4 linked regions of the Homo sapiens genome follow. The protein of the gene in region 3 interacts with the protein of the main gene of each other region in a pairwise test. Each region holds a gene or a part of one and is shown on either strand. Other genes may lie near its edges. The genes, in order: PON2, ANKS1B, HTR2A and RPS6KA3.

What was found.
Region 1: the proteins of HTR2A (region 3) and PON2 interact in a two-hybrid assay, tested with the Homo sapiens proteins (one study listed by IntAct).
Region 2: the proteins of HTR2A (region 3) and ANKS1B interact in a two-hybrid assay, tested with the Homo sapiens proteins (one study listed by IntAct).
Region 4: the proteins of HTR2A (region 3) and RPS6KA3 interact in a two-hybrid assay, tested with the Homo sapiens proteins (one study listed by IntAct).

What each region holds. Positions count from the first base shown.
Region 1 is NC_000007.14:95,418,029-95,425,056, forward strand, and holds part of PON2 (serum paraoxonase/arylesterase 2), read right to left. Parts: intron 6,558-7,028; coding exon 6,487-6,557; intron 5,661-6,486; exon of another isoform or gene 288-5,660; intron 1-287. UniProt on the Homo sapiens protein: Capable of hydrolyzing lactones and a number of aromatic carboxylic acid esters. Has antioxidant activity. Is not associated with high density lipoprotein.
Region 2 is NC_000012.12:99,974,927-99,981,954, forward strand, and holds part of ANKS1B (ankyrin repeat and sterile alpha motif domain-containing protein 1B), read right to left. Parts: intron 1-7,028. UniProt on the Homo sapiens protein: Isoform 2 may participate in the regulation of nucleoplasmic coilin protein interactions in neuronal and transformed cells. Isoform 3 can regulate global protein synthesis by altering nucleolar numbers.
Region 3 is NC_000013.11:46,887,054-46,894,081, forward strand, and holds part of HTR2A (5-hydroxytryptamine receptor 2A), read right to left. Parts: intron 5,538-7,028; coding exon 5,337-5,537; intron 1-5,336. UniProt on the Homo sapiens protein: G-protein coupled receptor for 5-hydroxytryptamine (serotonin).
Region 4 is NC_000023.11:20,263,907-20,270,845, forward strand, and holds the start of RPS6KA3 (ribosomal protein S6 kinase alpha-3), read right to left. Parts: upstream 3,004-6,939; 5' UTR 2,727-3,003; coding exon 2,658-2,726; intron 1-2,657. UniProt on the Homo sapiens protein: Serine/threonine-protein kinase that acts downstream of ERK (MAPK1/ERK2 and MAPK3/ERK1) signaling and mediates mitogenic and stress-induced activation of the transcription factors CREB1, ETV1/ER81 and NR4A1/NUR77, regulates translation through RPS6 and EIF4B phosphorylation, and mediates cellular proliferation, survival, and differentiation by modulating mTOR signaling and repressing pro-apoptotic function of BAD and DAPK1.

The sequences.
Region 1 (7,028 bases), on a different chromosome or scaffold from region 3:
TAACTCCATTGCCTAATTCCAATGGAAAAAATGTATCTATCTGTAGCCTTCTTTGGAATATTTTCCAGATCTTCTCCCCGTCATCATTTCTATAGCCACTACTGCAGGAAGGTTTTATCATCGTGTATCCCCTCTTCGGTGTGATTATGTCAGGAGCAGTCAATGCTAGAGAAATTTTTGCTCCTCTAATTTAATAATAATAACTAACATACATTAGGTACACCAAGTACCAGGCTCCTTGTAAATACCCTGCATACAATATCTCATATGATTATCTTTTATTTTAGAGTGAAGACTATTGGAGGCTTTGGAAAAGTTAAGCAATTGCTCAAGGTCACAAACTGGGAAGCTGGGACTCAAAGCCTTTGCTCTGACTTAAAGGCAAACAGAAAATATTCAAGTTAGAATTTAATGAATTTCCTCTCTCAGAAACATCCCCTGATTCCTCTGTAAAGCCACTTCACTTGTAAATTCAATTGTGGTCAATTCCATATGTTGTCTTTTTCCCCTGAAGTTTTGCTTCCAAGCCTCTCACCAACATCTTTACCAATGAATATCCTGCACTTTTCTTTAAAACCTCTTTCAAAACCTTTTCTGTCTTTTTCGTATTTCAACTTATTTTATTTCAAAACAAATTTATTAAATCTTTACTTTTTTTATTCTAGTGATATACATTAATTTCAATATTGCATTCCAGGTGATATTTATGTAAATATGTGAAAACTTAATACTGTGGGCTGATTTGGCACTGTTTGTCACTCTTATTGTGTGCTTGACTCTCTCCCTCCCCTTCATCGGTTCTCTCTCTTTAAACTTTTTATTATGGGAAATAGACACAAATCAAGAGAATGGTGTGGTGAGCCCTTATATACCCAGTACCCACCTTCAACAGTTATCAGCTCATGGCCAGTCTTGTTTCCCTTGCAGTCCTACCACTTATCCTCATCCTGTGTTATTTTAAAGCAAATCTGAGGCATCATATTATCCCTAAATATATTTATACAAACCACAATATCATTACTACACTAAAAATTCACAATAATTCCTCAATATCATCAAATATCTAGTTAGTGTTCAAATAGCCAATCATGTTTAAAAGGTGTAGCTTTAAAAAATTACAGTTTGTTTAATTCAGAGTCCAGGTAAGGTCCCACACATTTCAATTGATTGATGTGCCTCTTATTTCTTTAAGTCTACCCCGTGTCAGTCCATTATTGCCTGTGGGCAGGAGGACTTAGCTCCCTGGGTGCACTCAGAGCTTTTGGTAGCCAACACTCAGGGAAGTTGGGGGGGATCTGGGGAGGGTATCCACTGCATCCACTGCTCAGGGGAATTAGGGGGAGAATTTCCAGGCACAAGGAACAGCATGAGCAAAAAAACACATGAATGGCACAGCGTAGCATGACAAACCCTTTCTTTAGAAAGTCTCCTAGCTTAGCACATTTAATTTCCATCTCTTCTTATTACTTTAGCAATTATCTGTGTCAGAGGTGGCCAAGTGTTCACCAGCATCCATGTTCCCCTTCTTCCTTTTTAGCCTTTTTAGCAATAGGCACGTAGCAACACAGCTATAGATAACATTGCCCACCCTTTCTGGCTGACAGATGTGGCCATATGTCTAAGTTTGGGTCAATAGGATGTGAGAATACAATATATATGCAACTACTGGGTAGAAAAAAAAATCTACATAAATTTTCTTTCAACCCCTTCCTGCTGGGAAATGGCAACAAGCAGAGTTCTAGTCTTAGATGAAGACAGCTGTGTTGCTTCATCAGCATTTGCCCCTGAATGACCATATGGAACACAGTCACCTAACTACCCTAGGCCATTCACTTACCTTAAGACTGATGAGAGAAAAATAAAAATAAACATCTCTTTTCTAAGTGACTATAATTTTATAACAGCAACGCATCCTTTACTATACCCAATAGAGCATCCCATATGTAACATATTATTTCCTACTTTTCTGGTTCACTCATCAAGTATATACATTAGTCACCCTGGGAAAAGACACTATATTGGAAAGTGAATTTGCAAAAGTTGCTTAACCTCCTTGAGCCTCAGGTACTTATCTGCTAGAGAAAGAAAAGACATATCTATATCTCACAGTGGTTTTTTGTTTTGTTTTGTTTTCCTTTTCTCCCATCAGTAGACTGTAAAGTACTTGATTATAAGGGCCACAAACTTTAATGCTTTTTTCCCCTCAATCTCCCAAGCAGCAGTTATTGTAAAGGTCTTGACTGCCAAGTGCATAAAATTGTTAGTTATCTTGAGAAAGACAGTCCACTCAAATTTTGAAGGCCAGACATTTAGAAAATCAGATTTTTTAACTTTTAAGCCTCAAATAAAGTTAACTAGCTCTTGACATTTTAATATGCAGATGTTAATCTGCCAAATCTTGGGTGTATAAAAGCTTAGTTTCTGTCTATAAGATAGATCGGGAAGGAATTTTTGAAAAGGACTAAATAGTGAACTTATTTTCTGACCCACAGAAGGCACACATCCTGTATGATATGTAGTCAATAACTATGATTTATTAAAGCAGACACAATATGATATGATATATATAAAGCACCCAAAAGTTGCACATAGTTCACTTCCAGTGATGGTGACTGAAGCACGGTAGTGTGTGCATATGTATGTGTGTGTTGATGGGAATCAAGGGCAAGGGGGAAGGAAGGTTCACCTCTTAGAGGGATTAGTTGGCCTCAAGTGCATAGCTACTACTGTTTTCAAAACAGAAAATAAGAAACAGCCCTCTCTATCATAAAAAGTCACTTTTGCCTGTATAGAAATGTGTGTCCAGCACATTGTTATTTCTTCTTATCAAAGACCTGTGAATAAGCAACTGTTGTTAAAGATATATAACCAAAAGTTATTATTAACCATTATGCATCACTAACATAGCATTCGACAAACGTTCATATGGTGTGTGCTAACCACAGGGCAAAAGCAAAAAAGAAAAAAAAAAGGACAATTCTAATTAGATCTAAAAATGTATCCCAAATGTGCTTCTAATCACTCATCCTCTCCGCTCTGTTGCCTTTTGAAGTGCCTCAGAGGCATTTAACACTTCACAAGAGGGGCCATAGGTGACATATTTCCTCATTCTTTCCAATTCCAGACAGCAGCTCACACACATCACAACATAAAGGTCACAAACATAGACAGATGCCTGTTCAGAATACAAATGTTGCTGGGCTTGTTTTTCTCTGAGGAGCGCTCCATCCCAGTGAGTTGTAAGAGGAATGCACTTGGCAGTCTGTCATGTAACATGGCTGGTTGTGCCCTATTGTCTACTCTGAGACTTGTATTCACAGAAGGTGGGCTTCCCAGGGCCAAGGGCTGTTTAATAATGTGACAATTATTAACTCAGCAGCAAAAGTAACCTAAGAGATCACTGGCCCAAACTCCCACCCTTGCCCAACATCTTTTACTAATGCCATCTGGCTTTTGCTGAGTGACCAGTTCTGAGAGGGCTCTTCTTGATTGCAGCTGGAAGGCAAGATGAAGCTGCTAAGTTACTTGGGACTCTTGAACTGTCTGCATGATCCAGCACAGATGTAGTCAATCTGCTATTTGATATGAGTTTGCCTCCTCCCACTTAGTGTTTGGGCAATTGAAAGAAGGAAGGGAAATTCCAGGACAGCCAACCAGTCTAGGGGAGGGGAGGTAGAACTGGGGAAATACAAAAGTATCAATGAAAAAAAGGAGAAAGAACACATAGGAAACAGATGCCTAAGGAATGAGAGGCAGATCAACCTGAGGAAGCTGATTTAAAAGAAGAAAAAAAGAAAGGGAGGCAAGCAAGGTATTTGTAGAGAAACTCTGAAGGTGGCACTGTCAACTGATGGTTTATTTTTACTAAAAGAGTGCTGAGAACTCTGTCTGGAGTGAATGTGGTTACAACTATGAGGTACTGAGTTTATTACTGTTGCCAAATTGAGAGCAACTTAGCAATGACTGTCAAAACTCTAAACACATATTCTAAGGGAACAACAATCCCATTGTTAAGGACATATTCTACAGACACACAAACTCAACAGCAATGATGTTCACTGATTTGTTCATAGTTGCAAAAAACTGTAACAACCCAAATGTACATTAAAAGGGGAATGGTTAAATAAATCATGGAATGTGAAAATATTAAAAAGAACAAAGTAACTATATATGCTGATGTGGAAAGCTGCTCACACTGTTTTAGGAATGAAGAAGGTTGTGAAATATTTACACTAAAATTCTATTTGTGAAAAAAAGAGTCAATATATTTGTTTGCAAATGCACTGAAACTATCAGGAAAGATAAAAAAGGGAGCTTTATCTTTGGGGTTATTTCTGTTGGGGGTGATGAAGAGTTTGATGAGAGATTTTTATTTTTATTTACTTTCCATTTTATATCTTTCTATATTGTTTGCACATACACTGTTTATATGAACTTTGCACAAAAAATACTGTGCAGTTGTGAAGAAAAGGTAACATTATGTACAAACATAAGTTTCCAAAACCTAGTATTAAGTACAAAAAGCTAGTTTTGAAATATTATGCATAATTTGACCTCACTTATGTTTTTAAAAATTATGTACAGGAGTATTCATAAAAAGAAAAAGATGGAAGGACACTCAAAACTTGTTTAACAATGTTACCTATTCAGAGAAGAGAACATTTCCATGTAACCCGAGTTTTAATTTCTAAAGAGTAAAACAAAATATTAAATTGTCTCTCCTACCTCTAGAGAAGGATGTTGTTGTAAAGGACTAGAAGTGACTCAATGACAGTCTAGTTATTTCCACACTGTGGCTCTCAGAGTAAGATTATAAATAAATGGTCCCAGGCTTTTTAAAGTCTAAAAACCATTAGTCTAATCACAAACTCATCATTATAGGTGACAAATACAAAAACCAACTTTGCCTAAGGTTACATTGTGGCAGAATAGAACTAGAAACTAGGTGTTTTGACTGCTAATTCTTTTTGTTTCTAATCATACCATGAACCATATCTAAGGAAAGCCAATATTGGCTGGGCTCAGTGCCTCATGCCTGCAATCCCAGCACTTTGGGAGACCAAGCTGGGAGGATTGCTTGAGGCCAGGAGTTCAAGACCAGCCTGGACAACATAACAAGACCCTGTCTCTACAAAAATAAAAAACTAGCCATGAGTGGGGGCATGTGCCTGTAGTCTCAGCTACCTGGGAGGACGAGGCGGGAGGATCGCTTGAGCCCAGGATATCAGGGCTGCAGTGAGCCAAGATTGCGCTACTGCATTCTGGCCTGGGTGACAAAGTGAGGCCACCTCTCAAAAAAAAAAAAAAAAAAAATTAAAATTTAAAAAAAAGGAAAGCCAATATTTATTGTTCATTGATAATCTAACTACTAGTCTATTATGTACTAGGGACATGTACTTAGTAGATGATAAAGGGTAAAAGACAGCAAGACACAGACTCTACCTTGGAGAAAAACTGCAAACACACCAGAGAGACCCTCAGTGCTGGAGAAGAATCTGGACAGATCCCTCCTTATCTATAGCAAAATTGGGGCTTGCTCTTAGGAACCCCTACTCAAAGACTCAGACTCCACAATACATCCTACATAAAGTCAAGGGAAGAGGGAGACTCCCCCTCTGCAGTCATAGCTTAGAAGATAAAATAAAAACAAGTTTTTACAATACATATTGTGAAGTGCCGGTACATCAGTCCGTTCTCAGGCTGCTAATAAAGACATACCTGAGACCGGGTAATTTATAAAGGAAAGAGGTTTAATTGACTCACTGTTCCGTGTGGTTGGGGAGGCTTCAGGAAACTTACAATCTTGGTGGAAGGGGAAGAAAACACACCCTTCTTCACATGGCGGCAGCAAGGAGAAGTGCCGAGCAAAAGGGGGAAAAGCCCTTATAAAACCATCAGATCTCATGAGAACTCACTCACTATCACGAGAACAGCAGCACAGGGTAACCACCTCATGATTCAATGACCTCTCACTGGGTCCCTCCCACAACACGTGGGGATTATGGGAACTACAATTCAAGATGAGATTCGGGTGGGGACACAACCAAACCATATTGGTCAGTTACGTGTTAGCCATAAGATCAGATCCTAGTTATAGAGTAGTGAGCAGGGTAAATGCTGTCACTGCCTACATAAAGCTTCCTTCACTAGCTGACCACAAGGCTCACAGAACACAGACTGCAGCGGCCATACCTGACAAACAATACAGACGCAACAAAAATAGTTCAGAGAAGTCACAAAACAAGCAAGAAATCAAATGCTAAACATAGAATTACACACAAAAAAGAATAATTTACAGTGAGGGTAGGAAAGAAGAATAAATACAGGGTTCATCAGATCAAGAGGTTGACCAAAGAGGTTTTTGTTGATCTAATGTGATTTATCCACTGAAAAGCAGTAATTTCATGCTAAAATGCCATTAATGAGTGTTTTAATGTTAATGGCCAAAAAATGCAATGTGCCCAACAAGCATTTTCATATACATACCAATTCCTTTAATCAGGTGGCAGTGTGGAAGGTCTACAGATTCTACTTCTCTGGAGGCTTTAAGTCGATTTCTGTTACAAAGAAAAAAAAACAAAAAACAAAAAACTATTTGTTTATGTATTCCCTGCTTTGTTTTAGAAAGGGTTTAAAGAGGCTTACAGCAATACATAAAACACAGTTTAAGTCTAAAGCAGATGAAAGAGAAAATAGAAAGACAAGGGTAGGAAAATAAAACTGCACCAGAAATGAAGTTAAAACAAAAATGCCTATTGCAAAGTTCTATATACTGATGTGGGTTATTAAAAAAAAAAAGCCAATAACTCAACAAATAAAACTTATAATGCAAGTTCCTATGCAAATGTAAACACAGCACCATGTCACATTTCTCAGTGTTGGTGTTGTGGGAAAAGAGTTCCAGATGTAGAACCAGTAGCCCTGTCTTCCTTCTGAAGAGTCAAACGTGAAAAATGACTGTAAGCCTCACACAGAGACTGCAAAGAAGCCAAGAGAAAATGGCATTGCTCAGAGCCTGACACACCAAA
Region 2 (7,028 bases), on a different chromosome or scaffold from region 3:
CATCAGAAGAATCACTATGTATGGCAGGAGTTTGAGGAACAGTGAGGCTCTGTCCTTATAAAAAAAAATCAAAAAATTGGTTGGGCATGGTGGCACATGCTGGTAGTCCCAGCTACTTGGGGTCTAAGACATGAGAATCACTTGACCCTGGGGGGCAATGAGGCTGCAGTAAGCTGTGATTGCACCACAGCACCCCGGCCTGGGTGACAGAGTGAGAACTTGTCTCCAAAAAAATGGAAGAATTACCACCTGTATCCAACATTCTCTTACGAGCCTGGCAAAATCCACTCCATTTGTTCTGCCAGAAGAGGTCGATGGCTTTACTATTTTGGCCTAATGTTTTGTTGCCTCTTTAAATGAAAATACGAAAAGAGCTGCTTCTTTCTAAAAGCTTTACCAATCAATTACAACTTCACTATGAATTAACTGTCAGGTCCCACAAACACTTTTTGGTGGTAAAGAAAGGAAAGAAAAGGCACTGGGTCCATGACGTTAGAGGATAAATTAACATTGAGGTATAAGCATTCCCTTTCCTCTGCAGCCTCACCAGCATCTATTGTCTTTCGACTTTTAAATAACAGCCATTCTGACTAGTGTGAGATGCTATCTCTCACTGTGGTTTTGATTTGCATTTCTCTGATAACTAGTGATGCTGAGCATTTTTTATGTTTGTTGGCCACTTGTATGTCTTCTTTTGAGAAATGTCTGTTCATGTACTTTACTCATTTTTTAATAGAGTTACTTGTTTTTTGCTTGTTGACTTAAGTTCCCTATAGCTTCTGGATATTAGGCCTTTGTCAGATACACAGATTGCAAATATCTTCTCCCATTCTGTAGGTTGTCTGTCAGTGTGGAAGGTAGTACAGAGATTTCTCAAAGAACCTAAAATTGCTACCATTCGACCCAGCAATCCCATTGCTGTGTATATACCCAAAAGAAAATAAATCATTCTACCAAAAAGACACATGCATTCATGTTCATTGCTGTGCTATGCACAATAGCAAAGACATGGAATCAATCTAGATGCCCATCAATGGTAGACTGGACAAGAAAATGTGGTACATATACACCATGGAATACTAGGTAGCCATAAAAAAGAATGAATCCATGTCCTCTGCAGCAACATGGATGGAGCTGGAGGCCATAATCCTAAGAAAATTAACACAGGAACAGAAGACCAAATACCACATGTTCTCACTTATAAGTGGGAGCTAAATATAAAGCATATGTGGACATAAATAAGGGAACGAAAGACACAGTGGACTACTAGAGGGTGGAAGGGGGGTAGATTAAAAAACAGCCTATTAGGTACTATGCTCACTACCTAGGTGACAGGATCCATGCTCCAAACCTCAGTGTCATGCAATATTTCCATGTAACTAATCTACATACATACTTCCTGTATCTAAAATCTGTTGAAAATTTTTTTTAAATATTCAGATAGGCTGGAATCTAGAGATGATGCCAGCTGGCACAAAAACTGGAGCCAGGGTGAACTTGTAGTAATTAGAAAAAAACGCTTTTTTTCTGAGATGTGATTGAGGAGGGTTAAAGGGAATGTGGTGTGGGAAATAGAAACAGGAAAGGAGGTTGGCTGTTTATGCTCACATCCATCAATCAAGATTTGATCCAATTTGATCAAAGAATGGTAACAAGTCTAAGCAGTTTGTTTCAGTTCAGTTAACTAGAAGTGATTAACCACTTCAAATAAAGCTACTCTCATAACACAATAGAATCCAAATAACTCTACTGCACAGCTTAATCAAAGTTCCATTTCACAACTAGATCCATGAAGACATGTCATTTAATAAGAAACATGATTCATAAGAATCAGATTCAGAGATGAACACTCTGGACAGTGCAGTAGAAGAAACAGAGTGTCTTAGTCTATTTTGTGTTCCTATAAGAGAGTACCTGAGACTGGGTAGTTTACAAACAATGTATGTTTTTGTGATTCACATTTCTGGATGCTGGGAAGTAAAAGAGCATGGTACTAGCATTTGCTCAGCATTTGGTGAGGACCTTCTTATTGCATCATCCCATGGCAGAAGGCAGAAGGGCAAGCAAGCATGGGCAACAGAAAGAGGAAATTGGGCTGAACTCATTATTTTGTGAGGAGCCTCCCATGACACCTAACCCACTCCCACAATAATGGCATTAATCCATTCATACATGCAGAGCCCTCATGGCCTAATCACCTCTAAAAGATCTCACCTGTTTGTTTTGTTTTTATTTTGAGTAGGGTCTCACTCTGTCACCTAGGCTGGAGTTCAGGGGCATGATCATTGCTCACTGCAGCCTCAAACTCCTGGGTTCAAGCAATTCTCCCCACCCAGCCTCTCAAGTAGTTGGGGCTACAGACGTGCAATGCCACACCTGGCCATTTTGTTTTGTTTTGTTTTTTATAGAGACAGGGTCTCACTATGTTGCCTAGGCTATTCTTGAACCCCTGGCCTCAAGTGATACTCCCGTCTCAGCCTCCCAAAGCCTGCGATTACAGGTGTGAGCCACCACGTCCAGACAGATCCCATCTCTTCATACTGTCACAATGACAAATAAATTTCAACATGAGTTTTGGAGACAACACTCAAATCATAGCACTGTGGAAAACAAAATTTATCCTTTGGTCATATTTTTTGATCCATCTTCAAATATCAATTAAAAGCCTCATCCAGATTTAACACAAATGTAAAATGTATTTGATATCCTACTGACACCAAAGAAGAAAAGTAGACTCTTAAGAAAAGTTTCTAGATCTGTATTACACAAGAAAATTCAATGAGTTTTCAACTGGCATTGTGCCTCTGCCTGCCCGTACGGCTTACATAACCATGTCCTCACATGCATGAGAAAGAACTGGAAGATAGAAGCGTCTTCTTTGTAAATTCCTTTTTCAAATATAAAATATTCTCCCATATCAACATATGATGAGTAATAAAAACTCACTGTATTTTAATTAACTAACATCATTCTGCAATATGTCCAAAACGGAAACTAAAGACACTCTAAAATGCATTAAGTGTTAAATATCTTCAGGTTCCATAGGTTGAAATTAGTCTTTTCTAACCTTTGTCTGGCATTATAGTCAGCTTCCATTTCTAGTTAAATACTCAGGAATAATGTTCTATCATAGGCTTCTGATAGAATTTTCCAAAATTACCTCAAAATTATTTCAGTATATAACTGAACTAATCAAATTGTTTACTGTCACCTGAAAGGTTAAGTTGCTAAAGTCAGCAGAGGCACTAATAAATATTATATGCTTCTGCCTTAATGTCAGTGAAGACTTGCATCAGCCTTTGTCATCTGTAAGAAATCGAGTCACACAAGAAACTGTGCAATGGATGGACAGGTTGAGTAGTAGTCACTGGCTGGCTGCCCTAGTTCACTGCTACACATCACCCTCAGTGTTTTGAAAAGGGAGCTGAAAACCCTGCTCAGTGGAGAAAGAGGTCAATACCAAAATTCACCCTCCTTTCTCCTTACTCCCCATCATGCAGCTGGCACTGTTCACTCTGGCAGATACAGCTCCCTGAACATAATGGTGCAATCACCACTTCAAACATCATTACTATCTAAAATAGATAACCCACTTGCAACTTGACTATTTTTATAGATATAACATTTTCATGGAGCTTAACTGCTCTATTTGTGATTTATTCCATTTAACCAATGCAGTTTCCCTGAAAGTGAGTTTCTTATATCAGGGTCCCAATAACCACAATTGCCCAAATAGTTGTGAAAATTACAGTACTTCCTAGTTGTCTGTTATCTCCCTGTATTCATCACCAAAATGACATGAGCTGAATCCTAAATCTGAAAAATTATAAGCTCTCTGGTTTTTATGTTTTTGGTGACCAGAAGATTGTTTTGCTCCACTTCTTATTGATCTACTTTTTCACATGGGGATCTTAAGAACTGTATTATTTATTTCTGACAAGAATTTACTAAATACACCTTATATAAAACTCAACTCTTCGAGGCATTAAGAAAATCAAATAAATTGAGGCATTAATAAAGTTTTATCACTGTATTAAAATACAAATAATTCTCTATCCTATACTCAGCAAAAAATTAATTAAATATACATTTTAAATGGAAATTAGTTTTGTTTAGAATAAAAGGTAGTTGTGCCAAAGGAAGAGAGGTTTTTTTTTAAGATTTTGCAGCTGTCTCATAAAAGATATGTTAAATAAACTGAAATTTCACATAAAATGTAGAGGAAGAAAAGGAGGGAGGCAACTCAATTTTAGTGCTCTGATGAGCTCAGATTTCTTTAAGGATGAAAGGGGGTAGTAAGAGGTATAACTGCAAGCAAACACAAAAAAAGAAATATATACTTGTCCAGGAAAAATGCTAATGTCCTTTTTAGCTAAGTTTGAAAAAGAGAAAAGAGGTGTAACAGTTCACTAATTTCACCTTCAGTTCTGGCAGAGTAAAAGGAAAACTGTGGGTAGTTTTAAACCACAAGATAATTTTCTATGATATCTAACAATGCCAAGAATCTAATTCTTCCCAACTTTTATTTTGCTTCTATTTTCCCTATTGAGAACCATTTTCAAATCAGAAGGGATAAACAAATAACTTCAGGAGATTACTGAAGGTCCAAACGAGACCATAAGGGACAGTAAGCTGCTTTAAATAAGTATGCATATCCAGACCCAGAAGAATTAGATGCAAGAGGGTAGAAGGAATTTTTGCCAATACTAGGAATTACCAATGGCTCACTGCCAGAAACAAGCCATAATAAAGTAGACTGATTTTGATGGAATTTAAAGGATAGATCAAAAGAATGCCATACACTTAAATACAGTGTGAATTTAGAAAGGCAGTAGATAAAATACCTCACAATATTCTCACAGGAACAATGGAGAGAAATAGCTGATTGTCATTGCGTGGCTTCAATCCTGGTAGAAATACCATGAGTAAAGACTGTTACTTTTAAATTTATACTAAGTTGAAGAGAGGTGCTTTGGGGATATAGCACAGTGTGTTGAATTTAGGTTATAGAAAACATGCTTATTACATCTCTGGATGATACAGGGGAGAGAAGTTAATACGCTGAAAGACAGACTCAAGAGTCAGAAAGAAGAAAAAAAAGAGTCAAAAAGATATAGAGAAATTACAAATACAACATAAAACAAATCAGATAAAAAGGAACAGGAATAATTTAAGCTCAATCAACACTTTTAAAAGTACCAGAAAGGGGACCTGGCTTCACAGGTCATTGAAAAAAAAAAATACCAGGAAATTTTAATTGACTGTATGTTCAACATGAGCCAACACCATTACATGGCCCAGAAAATCTTGACCTGTAGGTAGGTCTTAGATCAATAATAAAGAGATAATAATTTCATTGTATCATGTTTTAATAGCTGCTATTTTATTTTAATTACATAATACATATTCATTACAGAACACTGAAAATAAAGCCCAACCACAATTCCACCACTCAAAGATGAATACTATCTTCATTTTGGCATCTTATCATTCCAGACTTCTTAAGCACATTATAAGTGTTCAAACAAACTTATTTTTTCTTGCAAAAATAAGATCATACTATAAATGCTTCTTGTAACCTGCTGTCCTTGGTTTTCTTATTCAGCCATAATGTTCTACTCTGGTCAAGGGACATCTACTGCATTTTGTGAATTTCTAGTCACCATACTTTAAGAGGGTCATTGCAAAATTTGAGAATATGTAAAGAAGGAAAGAGAGAGTAGAGAAAAGTATGAAAACTAAGTTCTTAACATCTATGCTGTCTTGCCATATAAAAGGTTAACAGAGATGATAGCTCTTCCATGAAAAATACTTATAAGAAAACAAAAATACATGCATCTAAAGAACTATCCTGCAGATGAATTAGACTGCTTTATATTGACCCATACAGCCAATCTACTACCAATTGCTGAAAGTCACAGGGAAGTGGATTTTAGCTCAATGAAAAGAAAAATTTTAAAATAATTACAGCTGTCAAAAATAGAATGAATCTAGTCATTGGAAGGTTTAACAGGGCTGGAATAACTAACAGGTAAGAAATGTTACAGAGAAAATTTCCGCACTAGGTGAGAAGTTGGAAGAAAGTTCCCTCCTTATTTGACGATTCTATGATTGCTATGGGAAATTTACTCCCAGTCCAATAGGAAGCAAATCTTTAGTCATTAAGGCCTTAAAGAATACAGTCAAGTGCTTTAGAGGTGCATGAAAAATATTAACACTAACGATGAACACCTATATGCTAAATGTTTTGCATTCATTACTTTATACTTCATTTAATCCTTATAATGATCTTATATGATAGGTACTATTATTACTATTTCCACTCTGATAGAATAGTGAGGCTTAGAGAGGTTTTTAAATTTATTCAATGGCATTCTTACATTTGCTGAAAATTGCAGTGCCACCCAAAAGCATACCTGATTCCCCATTACATAGTTACTGTTGAAAGGATAATTTCTTATTACCAGTAGATAACAAGTAATCAGAAGCATCTTCAGAAAAGTTCTTGTCTAGTGAACCCTCAAAGGGCAGTTGTGAGATTTTTTTAATTAGAAAAAAATACCAAAATTTAAGGAATTTCAAATTATTCTTCATAGCAAAAAATGTTCAGATTGGCCTGTCTAAATTGGCCACATACCTTTAAACTTTTGTGAATAAAACAGATTCAATGAATGAGACTTAAAATGTTGTAAAACAAATCTGAATCACAGATTTTCAAATCTTTGCCATTATTAATTAAGTGACCATGGGCAAGTCCTTAATCTTATCTTTTTATTCCTTCATCTGTGAAATGACAATGGACCTCCTAAGGCTGACACAAGAATTGAATGAGATGACACGTGTAAGCACTTAGCATAGGGTCTGACACCATTATTACACAACCCAGGTAATAAAGCAAGCGGGGAAAAAGTGCCAAACATATTCTACAGTTCCTTCTAAAACATTAAGAAATTTCAAAGTGTCATTATGTTTGACGGGGGACACATTTTCCATTATCCTGCCAATAAATTTCTGATGACAATCATTTT
Region 3 (7,028 bases):
CCACTCTGGAGAAAGGCAGTATCAACAAAACACCCAAACATTTTATTTCAGTGTCCAGTATTCAATTAAAAAGAATTACCAGGCGGCCAGGCGCAGTGGCTCATGCCTGTAATCCCGGCACTTTGGGATGCCGAGGCGGGCGGATCATGAGGTCAGTAGATCGAGACCATCCTGGCTAACATGGTGAAACCCCATCTCTACTAAAAATACAAAAAAAAATTTAGCCGGGTGTGGTGGCGGGCGCCTGTAGTCCCAGCTACTTGGGAGGCTGAGGCAGGAGAATGGCGTGAACCCAGGAGGTGGAGCTTGCAGTGAGCCGAGATCGCGCCACTGCACTCCAGCGGGGGCGACAGAGTGAGACTCTGTCTCAAAAAAAAAAAAAAAAAATTATCAGGCATACACAGTACTCAATTAAAAAAATTACCAGACATATCAACAGACAGAATGAAGAGAAAAACAACCCCAAAACTCAGAAAAGAGAAATCCCTAGGTAATCCCACAACCCAGAAAAGAGAGATCCAGATAACTTGTGATTAATATTTAAGAAAATAGATGAAAACATGGAGAATTATTCTAAAAACCTGGAATTTATAAAGAATTAAATGAAAAAATCTAGAACTAAAAGTGTAGGAATTAAAATTAAGAAAACAAGAGATGGGTCTTAGGCAGATTAGAAGTAGCTGATGAGAGGACTAGTAACAGAAGAAGAAAAGTCAGTAAAGCTATCTCAAGAAATAAAAGGAGAAAAATGTACAAAATGTAGAAGTGTTTAACACTGCATGTTCTCACTAATATGTGGGAGCTGAATCGTGAGAACACGTGGACACATGGTGGGGATCAACACACACTGGGGCCTGTTGGTGGGGGGAGGTGGGAGGGAGAGCATCAGGAAGAATAACTAATGGATGCTGGGCTTAATACCTGGGTAATGGGATGATCTGTGCAGCAAACCACCATGGCACACGTTTACCCATGTAACAAACCTGCACATCCTGCACATGTACCCCTGAACTTAAAAGTTGAAGAACAAAGCAAAAAAAAAAATGTAGAAGTGCTTGAGTTATAAAGAACTTAGGTAAAAGGTTTAGCATACATGAGATTGGAGTCCCAGACATGAGGAAGAGAGAGAATGGGGCAGAAGCAATATTTGAAAAGATGGTGACCAAGAGTTTTGTCAAAGTGGCCAAAGTCACAAGTTTAAGAATCAGTACATACACCATGCAGGATAAAAACAGAAACTAATTCACAACTAAGTACATCATGATAAAGTTGCTAAAATAGAGACAAAACATTCTGAAGCAGCAGGGCGTGGCACAAGGTGATGTTTCTGAAGGAATAAAAATAAGACTGACAGCTGGATTCTTACAAACAAAAAATATAAGCCTGGAATGTTGGATTTGCCACCTATGAAGTGCTGAAAAAAAAAAAAGATGACTGTCAACCTAGAATTCTATACTGAACAAAAATGTGTTTGAAATGAAAGCAAAATAAAGATGCTTAGGATAAGAAAAACAGAACAAACGACATGATATTCTAGAGGAAATTCTTCAGGAATGAGGAACCCAGGCAAAATCATGAAAATGAAGAAAGCAATAAACAGCAACAGGGGTTAATATGTGAGAAATAGTGAATAGAATGGCTATAATGATGTCTTATGGGTTTAAAAAAGACATTTAGTAAATAGGGAAAAACCCAAAAGACAACAGGGATAGATGGAGCTAAAAGGTTCTAAAGTTTTTGCACTATCCGAGAAGTGTTACAAGTAATAATTTGTTTTAGACTCTAAGGTCAATAAGGAATGTTGTAATCATTGAAGTAATTTAAAACAATGGATAACAAGCTCATAAAGGGGAATGATGAATTGACAATTCTTGATTAGTCCAAAAGAAGGTAAGAATGAAAAGAAACTAGAATATAGAACAAATAAGAAAATAGCAAATTGTAAGATAACAGATTTAAACCCAAATATGAGTTAACATTATATGTAAAAGGACTAAATACTCCAACTAAAAGACAAAGATGGGGTTAAAAACAAAACTTTATATGCTGCTTACAGGCTAACACTTTAAAGTCACAAAAGGTTTGAAAGTAACAGGATGAAATAAGATATATCCAAAAATGATAATCAAAAGAAAATTAACGTAGCTATACTAAGATCAAATAGATTTTAAATCAAGAAGCATCACTAGATATAAAGTGGGACAGTTAATGATAAAAGAATCAATGTAAAGGTTAAAATTTGTATGCAGCTAATAACCCATGAAGGTATAGAAAATGTAAATGCAATAACTATAGAAGTTAGAAATGTAACTTAAAATACTATTTAAAAAGGAGCCAGGATGAAGAGATTTGGAACCAAGTTCTACATAACCTCTCAAAAACATGTAATTTCTACTTAAAGACTTCAAGACTTAGGGAAAGTGGAAACTTCTCTATCATTTAATAAAGCTAGAAAAAGAAAACTTGTAAGAATCATAAACCAACCAACTTTGTCATACAAACTCAATATTCCAGGAATGTAAGACAGTATTACATTTAGAAATTTACCAAGAGAGTGAACATATCAATAGCTTGAAGAGAAAATATCAATTGAGTCTAAAAAAAGCTTTAGTTACTAGTAGAAGCAAACAAGTTAGATCATATTTTAAAATTCCAGCTAGACTAAGGATCTAAATTAAAAGAAACCACACACAAAGCAAACAAAAAACTAAACCCAAAGCAAAATAATCAAAACAGAAACACTAGAAGAAAACTCAAGAGAATATTTGTGCTGAGTCTCTGTAGGTCCTTCATTAGATCTGCCTTTTTCCTTTTTACATTTTCCGCTTGCCCCCTCCTCAGGGCACACACCTCAGACTTCTAGTATAGATTCTATGTAACTTTTTTTTATTCTTTTGTTTCCTTGTCTTCTCCTACCTTACTGTGAGAGATCTTTGAATGCATATCTTTTTCATCTTGGTCTATACAGTGCCAAACACATAGTAGATGCACATTACAAGACTGGTCAAATGTGGGGGCAGTGGCTCATGACTGTAATCCCAGCACTTTGGGAGGCCAAGGTAGGGGGATCACCTGAGGTCGGGAGTTCGAGACTAGCCTGACCAACATGGAGAAACCTTGTCTCTACTAAAAATGCAAAATTAGCCGGGCGTGGTGGCACATGCCTGTAATCCCAGCTACTCAGGAGGCTGAGGCAGGAGAATAGCTTGAATGCGGGAGGCGGAGGTTGCGGTGAGCCAAGATAGCACCATTGCACTCCAGCCTGGGCAACAAGAGCGAAACTTCATCTCAAAAAGACTGGCCAAGTGGATGGATGAATGATCCCTGCCTGGCACCACCACAATCATTCCAGCCTGCCTGCCTCCTGTGGTGATAGTCTGCCTCTGGCTCTTTCTGGCTATCTTTTGTGCAGTGGAAAGAGCATGGGCTTTGGACTCAGATTGACCCATATTGACTCCTGATTATAAGTGATATCATCCTGTGCAACTGAGTTCTCTGAAGCTGATTTTCTTTAAGGGGCTTTGTATACTACTGGGTCCGTACTCAGTGCTCAGAAACTGTTACCTTACTACTGGTGTTATCATGAAGCCTGAATGAGATGGGGGAGTCAGTGTGGCTGAGGAAAAGATGGTTGACCTTCCCAGCATTTGTCTCACCAATGGCACAGTATATTGGGGTAAAACTATGGACAGTGTATCAGGGTAAAAATAAATAGCTTCATTTGCTCCCTCTGCATTAATCTTGATTCTCCTACTTATCACGCTGACCACCCTGAAAACCTGTCTCAGTGGTCTTCAACTCTGACTGCCCCTTAGAATCACCTGGCCTCACCCTAGGCAATTAAATCAGAATGTTCCCAGGGGCATTTTATGTGTAATTGGGATTGAGTGGTTACTGGCCCTTCACTTTCTTGCTCTTAGTAGAATGAGTCCAACTTGCACAGTCCCAGAAACTACAAGCATTTTCTAGGAGCAAAAACTGTTTCCTAAGGAAGGTACAGAAAGAACAGGGCATGGTGCTGGAAGTTTAGAGTCCTAGTCCTGCTGCAAGTTGGAGACATGATCCAGTAAGCCACAATACCTCTGTATTCTGGTTTCCTCATTTATCAAATAAGCACCATAGAATCTTCTATCTCAAACGGTAATGGGAAATTTAAAATAGGAAGTAGGTAAGACTTTTTAAACATTTGAAAGTGACACAAGTGTGATTTGTTAGTGTTTCCATCAGATGTTCCCATCAGAATTCAATAAAATCCTTGTTGTGCTACTTACTGGCTGTGGGGCTTTGCACAGCTCATTTTGCTTTTTGAATCCCAGTTTTTCCTCATCTATAAGATGGAGCTACTTACTCTTCAAATTGCATAATAGTTCCCATTGCTAGCAGCAAAGAAAACAATGGGAACTAAAATACACAAGATATAGTATTATTGTGTTGGCTCTTATTATTGGTACTATTATTCCAATGCTGTGGATAAGCTCACTCAAGCCCTTGATTTCAAGCGGTGGAATCTCATAGTCTCTCATATTAGCGGATGCTGGCACTGGCGTGGCCATAAACAGGTGCAACACTCCTGCCTGCTAAGCTTTTGGATTTTAAAATGAATGTCAGAGAATCTTTGGTTACCAACCAAGCTGCTGAGGTTGACAGGTACAATTCACTTCACTGCCTGAGACCCGCCCCCTTAGCTTCCATTACCTGGGCTTTTCTGACTATTAGGTGTGTGACAGAAGATCAATACTGGCGAGAGATGAATATATGTAATCAACCTAACAGAAGCAAGTTGAAATCCTTTGGTGTGTGGTATCATAAAAGGAGGAAGGTCAATAGGGACACTGGGTCGGACTGAAAAGCAGCCTTGCCCCAAAGCAAATCCTGGCACTTTCCTCTGGCCCACCTTTTCCCTCCAAGCTACAGCACATGGTACCTTTCTCTAGAGCCCAGAGGCTTTATGTTCTCTAGCAAAGTGGTCTGCATCCTTACGTTGATCATAAGTTCAGTGATTATAAAAGTTGAGGTCTTTGGGAAACCCAAGAATTAGAGTCGTGGACTTGAAAGTAAGAAATAGGGAAAACAGCACAGTTATTTCTGACTTTTTGGCTCTACTGTTTATAGTTTTGCCTGTGCAAAGCAATACAAATTCATGTTGTCAGCCAGTGACATAAACAGATTTTTCTTTCCTGAAGCGAATCTGATAATTATGATGTTGTAACATATCTTGCACCACCCAAAACAGTAGATTGAGGATGTCAGGTTTCAGTACAACAAAATGGAACAAGTCTTTTCAGAAAGCACGAACTGTCATTTCAAATGAGACTCTGAAATATGTTGCCACTTACCTACTGATATGGTCCAAACAGCAATGATTTTCAGAAATGCCTTAGTTCTGGAGTTGAAGCGGCTGTGGTGGATGGGATTCTGGATGGCGACGTAGCGGTCCAGCGAGATGGCGCAGAGGTGCATGATGGAGGCCGTGGAGAAGAGCACGTCCAGGTAAATCCAGACTGCACAAAGCTTGCTCGGCAGAGGCCACCGGTACCCTATGAGGCAGAAGGTTGGTGTCAGTGAGCAACCCTGTGCCTCCTGGAGCACATGTATCCCTATCCTATGACAATTTCCAGCTCTGGGACAGGCACAGGTGGTGGCAAAGGGCAACACAATATATTTTTAGTATTTGAAAAAAGCCCACTGGCAACTGTACTTAACTATGATAAGCTAGCACTGGCTGATGAATGCAGGGTTTGAAAATTTCTAGTGTCTGGAGTTATGTGAGTGTGGCACGGTAAGCTTGGATGGTCTCTATTTGGGGGTTCTCTTTCTTCCCCCTTACGCCTGGCAAAACATTTCTTTTGTTAATGGCTTATGTCAAAATTTGTGTTTTGGCTCCTCTTCTGGAGCACCTCTCACACTGTACTGTCAGGATTTAGTCACATATTTCTCTGGATTGTATTTCCCTAAGGTTAGTCTCACCTCTTAGTCATTATTATAACCATCCAGTCCCATACAGTGATGGCAATAAATTGCATTAGTGCAAATGACTAAATGACTAAAAATTCAGATTGTGAATATGTCTGTTTGTAAAAATGAAAAATAATGATCTAATAATGCTTTGGGTGCCAAACTCAAATTTGGGGTATGTGTAGGGAGAGCTGAAGACAAGGGTGAAGAAAAATAAAGAAAGGTGTCCTTGCTCTGAGCTTTGTTTTAGGGAGGCATTTCTCAAACTTTAGTGAGCATCAGACTCTGCCACACCTCTTAAAACACACACTGCTGGACCTCCGTCCAGAGGTTCTGATGCAGTTAGTAGGGAGCAGGCTGTAGAATTTGCATCTGAATTAGCAAGCTCCCGGGTGATGCTGATGCTGCTGGTCCAGGGACCACGCTTTGTGAATAGCTGCTTTAGGGTAGTGGCTCTCACCCCTGGCTGCACATCAGTATCAGCTGGAGAGCTTTAGAGAAGGTCCTGATGCCCATGCCAAACCCAGCCCAATTAAATCATGTTTGGAGGGTGGGCTGAGGTGGACATCAAATGTCAAAGCGTTTGCAAAGCTTTTTCCAAGCTCCCCAGACAATTCCAATGTAAGAGATACTGCAGGTCACCTGCTATATGAGGAAGGTTAGAGTGTGCTTTATGGACATAAACAAAGTGTCCTGGTTTTGTGTTTTGGAGGGGGATTAAGCAGTTATGTAAACCTTAATTAGTTTTGATCACAGTATAAGCAGCGGAGTTAGATCTGCCTGCATGTAAGAAGGAAAATTTTAAAGTCCACTTTTCTTATTACAGACCCACAAAGCCGAACAAACTCCAACGCAAACGTACACTCTCTACCAAAATGCCACAAGGGATATTTAGACAAGTAAAGGGCGTAGGTACAAGCCTAATTTACAGCCATTCACATGTATTATTTGCAAAGAGCTTGAGCCGAAAGGAAAGCCTTTTCCTTTGCAGCGCCTTATGGGGGAAGCCACGCTCTGTCTGTTCGGAACAGATGTCGGCCCTCGGAGGGGTTTCTCTGCCAGGAGGCGGCCCA
Region 4 (6,939 bases), on a different chromosome or scaffold from region 3:
TGAAATCTTTTAACCTGGAGAGAAATATTTTGATGTATTCACTCAAGTAAATGACTCTAAAAAAAACTATGTTACTCTGGTAAAATACAATTATCTGATAGGAACCTACTGGGGGAGGAAACGGTATAATAGTGAAAATATTAGACCTCTGAGTGGAACTTTTCAACCTTTCCCTCACTGTCTTCAATATTTCCAAATTGTATCAGAAGTAATTTACTTGAAATAGCTGAACAAGCAAAGGAAATTAAATATCTAAAGGCAATTTGTTAGAATTTAATTTTAATAAATCTTGGCAACACTGGCTCTGTTTGACATACTTTATGCCAGGATAGCAAGAAAATTCTTTGAAAACAGCAAATTGTGGAATCCTATCTGTCAAGTTCTGGAAAACATGATAGTAACTGAAATAACAAGGCTTTACCAAATGAGACCTCTTATAATACTCTATTTGTTTCTGGAAAATAGATGACCTCTAACTACTGGCTTATTTATACCCCGAATTTTTCCACAAAAGATTTGGAACAGCTACCCTGATATAAAACGAAGCACATGAATTGTATCCACCTGGCTTTGAATTATGGCTCTGCCATTTACTATTTATCATCTTTGTACCTTTTAAATTCTGAGATTTGGTTTCCTAATCTATAACAATGGGGACCATAATCCTACCCTGCTGGGTCACAGGAAGGATAAAATGAAATAGTAATGTAGCACAGTACCTGGCATACAGTTGGTGCTAAATAAATATGTTTTGTCCTTCCTTATCCAAATGCATTCCAGATAGAAAAAGGATAAGGTGGAATTCTAAACGATATTGTTTTCCTATCACACTGATACATGCCAAGCAGAAATGTGGACTGATCTTGAGTTGCAATTGTTAATGTTTGTATGTAAAAGTCAGGCTCAAAGCAAATTTAATTTCTTTCCACAAGTTCAGTACTTTGCGAACATTTTATTAACCTTTTAGCTATATTATTTAATGCAAAAAATTTTCTGGGGAAAAATATGACGAGCTCTTGCATACTGTTTTTCACACTACCCATCTAAAGGATTATTAAACATCATAAATTTGGCTTTTTAATAAAATATTTATAGTATTAGTCTGGTTAACAATTTTAAATAAAGTTCTTGTGATTCTGCCAGTCTTAAAAACATGATTTCCTTTCTTTCTTTCCTTTTCTTTCAACATATATCAATGTCTTTTCCATTGAAGAGCAGCATTTAGTTCAGGTTTTACAAGTATGATCCAAGTCGCAAAATACTAAGCACCAATCATAAGCACTATTACAACTCTGCGTGCGTTAAGGAGAACAAGCAAAATTGTTATACAGCAGCGGAGGTGACTGGGGGAAAAAGTGAAAAGCGATTTGAACTGATCCCCCGCCCTCTCCATTATACCGGAGAATGCAAGTGTCCCGCATCTCAAGATTAAACTGAGCCTCGGTTTTACTGACGTAACCAGTAACCCTATCTACTTCTCACACTGCGGAGGCCGGCAGGGCAGCGGCTGCCGCCAAGCACACCACTCATCAGAGCCTGCCCCGTTCCACCCCCGCGTTTCAGTCATGCTTTCCAGAAATGGGGTCACTCACTCAGTAACTATTACACACACGCAGCCTATCATCCTGTAATCCCCTAAAGTCCGCTGCGGGGAGAGAAGGCAGCAAAAAGTCAAGAAGGAAGAATCACAGACGCGCCACCATCAGGAATTGATTTTCCACTCCGGAGAGGAGCGGTGATACCTTGGAACGGGTCTTGTCTGGATTATTTTCGCAGACCCCGAGTTGTTCTGGGATAGGGGCGGTTCAGGAAAGCTCGGTGTAGTGATGCGCCCGGGGAAATTCTGTTTTGCCCTGTTTGGGTATATTGTTTGGGTTTTGGGCACTAGGATGGGTGACTCAGGGACGGTCACCAGATCCCGGGCGAGGAAAACCAGAAAGCCTTTTACGGCGGCCGCTGATCTCCTTGAATATCACCCTCTCACCTCCATGGACAGGAAACTCAAGTTAAACTCACAGGGACGGGGGTCTAGCTCTGCGACCTCAGAAACGGAGGGGGTAGGGGACCTTAGGCTTCCGCTTTCTTCTTTGCAGCAGCAGAAACCGCTGCGGCAGACGAGGGGGAGGCAAAACCCTGCACCCCCTACCCGAAACCCCCACAGGTCGCCGCCGCCCGTGCCCCGCGCGCCGGTCTCCCCGCAGCAGCCCCTCCCTCGGCTGGACTCGAGAGTCCCTGCTCCCCGGTGAACCCGATCCCTACCCCTCCCTCATCTCCCAAAGTCGCCAAGGTCCGGGAAAGCCCCCGACCCGGCTGGGCCAAACTTCCCAACTCCCCGCCGGCCCCCGCTCCGCCTCCCGCTTCCCCCACGCAAAGTTGATTAAAATTGGCTTCTTGCAAAGCCCCAGCGCCCACTCCAAACCCCACGCGCCACCACACTGGCAGCCCCCCGAGCGAGGGAAGGAGGTGAGGGTGAGGATGGAAGGAACAGACAGACCGGCCAATAGACCCACCCCAACAACCCAAACCAAAACCCTGAGCCCGGGGGAAAGACGCGAGCGGGATCAGAACGGGCCGAGTGGCCAGCTCCGGGGAGCGAAGCGAGCCGGCGGGGGCGCGAGGAGGAGATGCGCCGGCCCCGGCCGCCCTGCTGCACTCACCTCAGCGCTGTCGGACGGGCTCTCCACAGCCATCTTCTGCCACGGGTCCGCCAGCTGCGCCAGCGGCATCTTCCCCCCCGGCCCGCCGCCTTCACCGCCTCCTCCCTCCCCGCCCGCCCCACGGCCGGCCCCGCTCCGTCGCCGCCCGAGCCCCACGGCAGCGGCGGCGGCGGCGGCGGCGGCGGCAGCGGCAGCGGCAGCGGCAGCAGCAGCAGCAGCGGCGGCGGCCCCAGAGAGGGCTCGACGCCGACGCCGACCGCCCGAAAGCCGCGCGCCTGGCCAGAGACGCCCGCGCGCTGAGCGAGAGCCTCGCGCCTCCGCTGGGCACCGGGTCTCGCCCCTTTCTTCCTCTCCTCCTTCCGCCGCCGGGACTACGGCTCCGCCCCCCCCGCCGGTTCCCGCGCCCGCTCCCAGCAGAACAGCGACCGCCGCGCGCTCCCCCACTTCCGCTCACAACATGGCGCCTAAGCGATACCTGTCTCTCAAAGCGAGGCTCGGCCGCCGCCACCACCGCCGCGCGCACCCAGGGGCTGGGCTAGTGGAAGACACGCCCCCGGCCGCTGCGCTCCGCTCCTCCCTCTTCCCACCCCCCTCCTTCTGCGCCCCAACCTCAGCTTCTGGGCCTCGCCTACTTTCAGGAAGGGCGAGCCCAACAGATCTGGGGGCGTCGGCGGGAGGCGGGGGAAAGAAATGGGAAAGGCAGGAGGGGCGAAGGCTGGGAGCCTTTCACCGCCAAGGGTCCAAGGAGGTCGGAGGCTCCTTGGGAATGAGGGAGAACAGTGGTCCCCGCCCAGCTGGGGAGGGAGGTGGGCAAAGTACCGGGGGCGCAGTCCCGAGCCAAGGACCCGGGGAGGGGTGCGGAGTGTCTTTTCGGCTTGTCTCCTCCGGGGGTGCGTGCGTGCGGACGCGCCTAGTCTCTGGGCGCATCCCGTAATGGCCCAAGACCCTCCCTCTTCAGGGTCACATGCTGGGAAATCACCTGCCCCCCATCTCCCCCGACGGAGGCAAGGGAGGCTTCGTGCCTAGGAGCCTCCTGGGGGCTCGGCTCCCGGTTTGATTCAAGTCTTTTCAAGTTGACGCTCTTTTGTTAAATTGTGGCTATTTGGGATTAATTCCTCTTGTATTAGTCGCTTCCCCCGCACCGCCCCCAGCCCAAATTCTCCTCCCCAAGTGCGCAGAGCTCTCGGCCTTCAGCTGCGACCCTGGAACCGCTGCCCCCCGCCCCACGTCTGCTACCTAAATCTTCAAGAGGGGAAAACAGGGAGGTTCCTTAAGGCTGTCCCTCTCGGTAGAGGTTGGAGAATTATTTAAAAATATCTTGTAGGCAGGAGCGCGGGGTTCCTGCTCCTCTGTTGACTTTAAATAAGAGATTAGATTTAAAAATCAGGCTGGCCGTGGGCGGAGGAGGAGGAGGAGGGGGACAGAGGGAGGGGAGGGGTTCTGACTCCTCCTCCTGCCCAAGATGGGGAAGCCCTGGATTAAGGAAACCCAATGCCCCGACGGCGACGGAGCCCCACAGGACGGCGAGAGCTTTGGGGGGAAGGCCTGGGCGTCCGGGGTGCGTCCCAAGAGGACTCGACCCTGTGTTCACTGCGCCAGGAGCCGCTGCGCGCTAAGTGCGCCCGGGCAGAAATGTGTAAAAGTCGCAGGGCTGAGTGGAAAGCTACTGCAGCCCCTGGCTAGTCGCCCAGCGAGGGGAAGAGAAAAAGCAAAGGGAGATCTCCGAGCCGGCCTGTCCCTTCAAACCCTCAGGCCGTGGCCCAGGCATCCCGGTCTTCCCACGCCCAGCGACCACGGCGCGTCCGCTGCTGCGCTCCCAGCGCACGCCTATTAACAGCTTCCTTTCATCCTCCCGGGACCCAGACACCTGGAGAACCCTCGCCTGCCTCCCTAAGCAGGTGTGAGGATGAGATTAGAGCCCCAAACCCAGCCGGCCAGGTCTGCGCGGGCGGTGCGAGGTTTCTCGCTGGGCCTGCGAGAGGCAGGTGTTGGGCTCTTTCTGCTGCCTTCGCCAGCGCGCCCCTTGGCACAGGCTCGAGGCCGGGGAACCTCGTGGCCATTTAGGGAGGCTCCAACTGTTTAGGGAGCCTGAGAAGGCGGCAGGAAGTCCTCGTTGCGCGCCTTCTCCCGAAGCTTTGGACTCAGGGGGACCGCTCAGGTTGGACAACATCTGGGCAGACTCAACGTGGTCTGGGGAAGAAGGCGAATGGGGCCACTTGGCTCTTGCCTTTGTCACTTCCCTTCACATGCTATATTCAGGTGTTGCAAATCCAACCTGGGCCCAAACTCAGCTAATTTGGCAGCACCTTCTCTGTGTAATTCCCGACGGTAAAACGTGCTTGCAGAAGTTTGGAGGATAAGGAGTTGTGTACTATTTTGCATTTATGTACAAAATGCTTTATTCATTTACATTGCAGAGTCACATGACCACTCCTTATAGCGAAAAGAAGTTCGTTAATTCGGTTGGCTTAAAGTAAATTAGCTCCCCCTACCCTTTGATCAATTATTTCAGTTAACATTCTTGCATTAGTAAAAACATACATAGTTGAAGAGAGACCGTTATGTGGCTAACACTGTTCAGTGCTAATTACCCCCACGCAAAGAATGAATATTTTAAAATAAAGCAAATTGTATGCCATTTTCAGTATCAACTTTTATTCATCTCTGTTAACCTTGAGAACCAGAGGAATAACTTTTAAAACAGAGTTACCTGATCTGTAAAAGTAATGTGAGCGGTGGTCACGTTTCAGTGAATTAAGCATTACATGAACTGTTAATAATGGGTTAAAGTGGCCGGGTGCGGTGGCTCACCCCTGTAATCCCAGCACTTTGGGAGGCCCAGGTGGGCGGATTACCTGAGCTCAGGAGTTCCAGACTAGCCTGGCCGACATGGTGAAACCCGGTCTCTACTAAAAATACAAAATTAGCCGGGAGTGCACACCCGTAATGCCAGCTACTCGGAAGACTGAGGCAGGAGAATCGCTTGAACCCGGGAGACGGAGGTTGCAGTGAGCCGAGATCGTGCCATTGCACTCCAGCCTGGGCGACAAGATCAAAATTCTGTCTCAAAAACAAACAAACAAACAAACAAACAAACCAGTTAAAGTACCACTACCACAGATGTCTTGCACAGAGGATCAATTTGATAAGTATTTATGAATTGATTGAATTTATTTAGAAGAACATTATTCTTCCTTTTGCCCCAAAAGCAAAGAAAATGATTTTTTGTTGTTAACAATAAACTTTTTCTCTTTTATTTCTTCTATTAAATCCAAGAGCAGTGCAACCACTCTCTTTGGTTAGGAGAATTTGGAAAAATCAAATGAGGCTGGAGGATTTTTCTTGAAGGTGGTAGCAAAAAGAGTTACTTGAACATAGAAGCTGATATTGCCCTAAGCAGGATTACTTTTCCCCTCTGTTTAACAAAGGAAAACTCTAAGTGTAGCTGTTCAAAGAATAGCTGCCTCAGATCGCCAGACCTGCATGGGTTAATACGGTGGTTAGTAGCCACACATGGCTACTGAGCACTTCAAATGAGGTTGGCTGGTCAAAGTTGAGATGTGCTGTAAATGTGAAGTTCTTTCTAGATTTCAGACTTAGTAAAAAAAAAAAAAAAAGAATATAAAGTATCTCATTAATAATTTTTTATATTCACAACATGTTGAAATGATATTTTTGATATATTGGGTTAAATAAAATATTTCATTAAAATTAATTTCACCTTTTAAAAACTTTTTAATGTGGCTACTATAAATGTATACTTACATATGTGGCTTTCGAGACTTTTATGTATTCCTACAAGTCATATAATGTTAAGTGATATCTTCAGATTCCAATGTCTTTTTGGCTTCCTTAGTGCAGAATCAGCAGAAAGGGCTGATTCAGTTACCTACTGATCCCCACCCTCCCCAACAAATCTCCCAGTCAGAACCAAAATATTGGAAAGTTCTTACTTGAAACTACAGTAGAGCGAAACAGCAAACCTCAGTAGAAAATCTGAAGGAGGTTTCCAAGAAATCATTCCTAATGTATGACGGGACAACTAGATTTAACCTCCTCTGCCCCCAACAATTTCCTGCTATAATTATAACCTTTGTATACAAGTTTAAATGGGCATTTATTTAACAAAATAACATTTGTTCAAAAAATAGAGTTACATCAGTCTGGAAAAGTTGCAAGATGACTAACTATGGCTCATGGCACAATCTCTACCTCATATACATCCAAAGTTCACAGCTCTGTACATATAGATTTGTCACTACTGTAGAAAATCCCAAAAGTG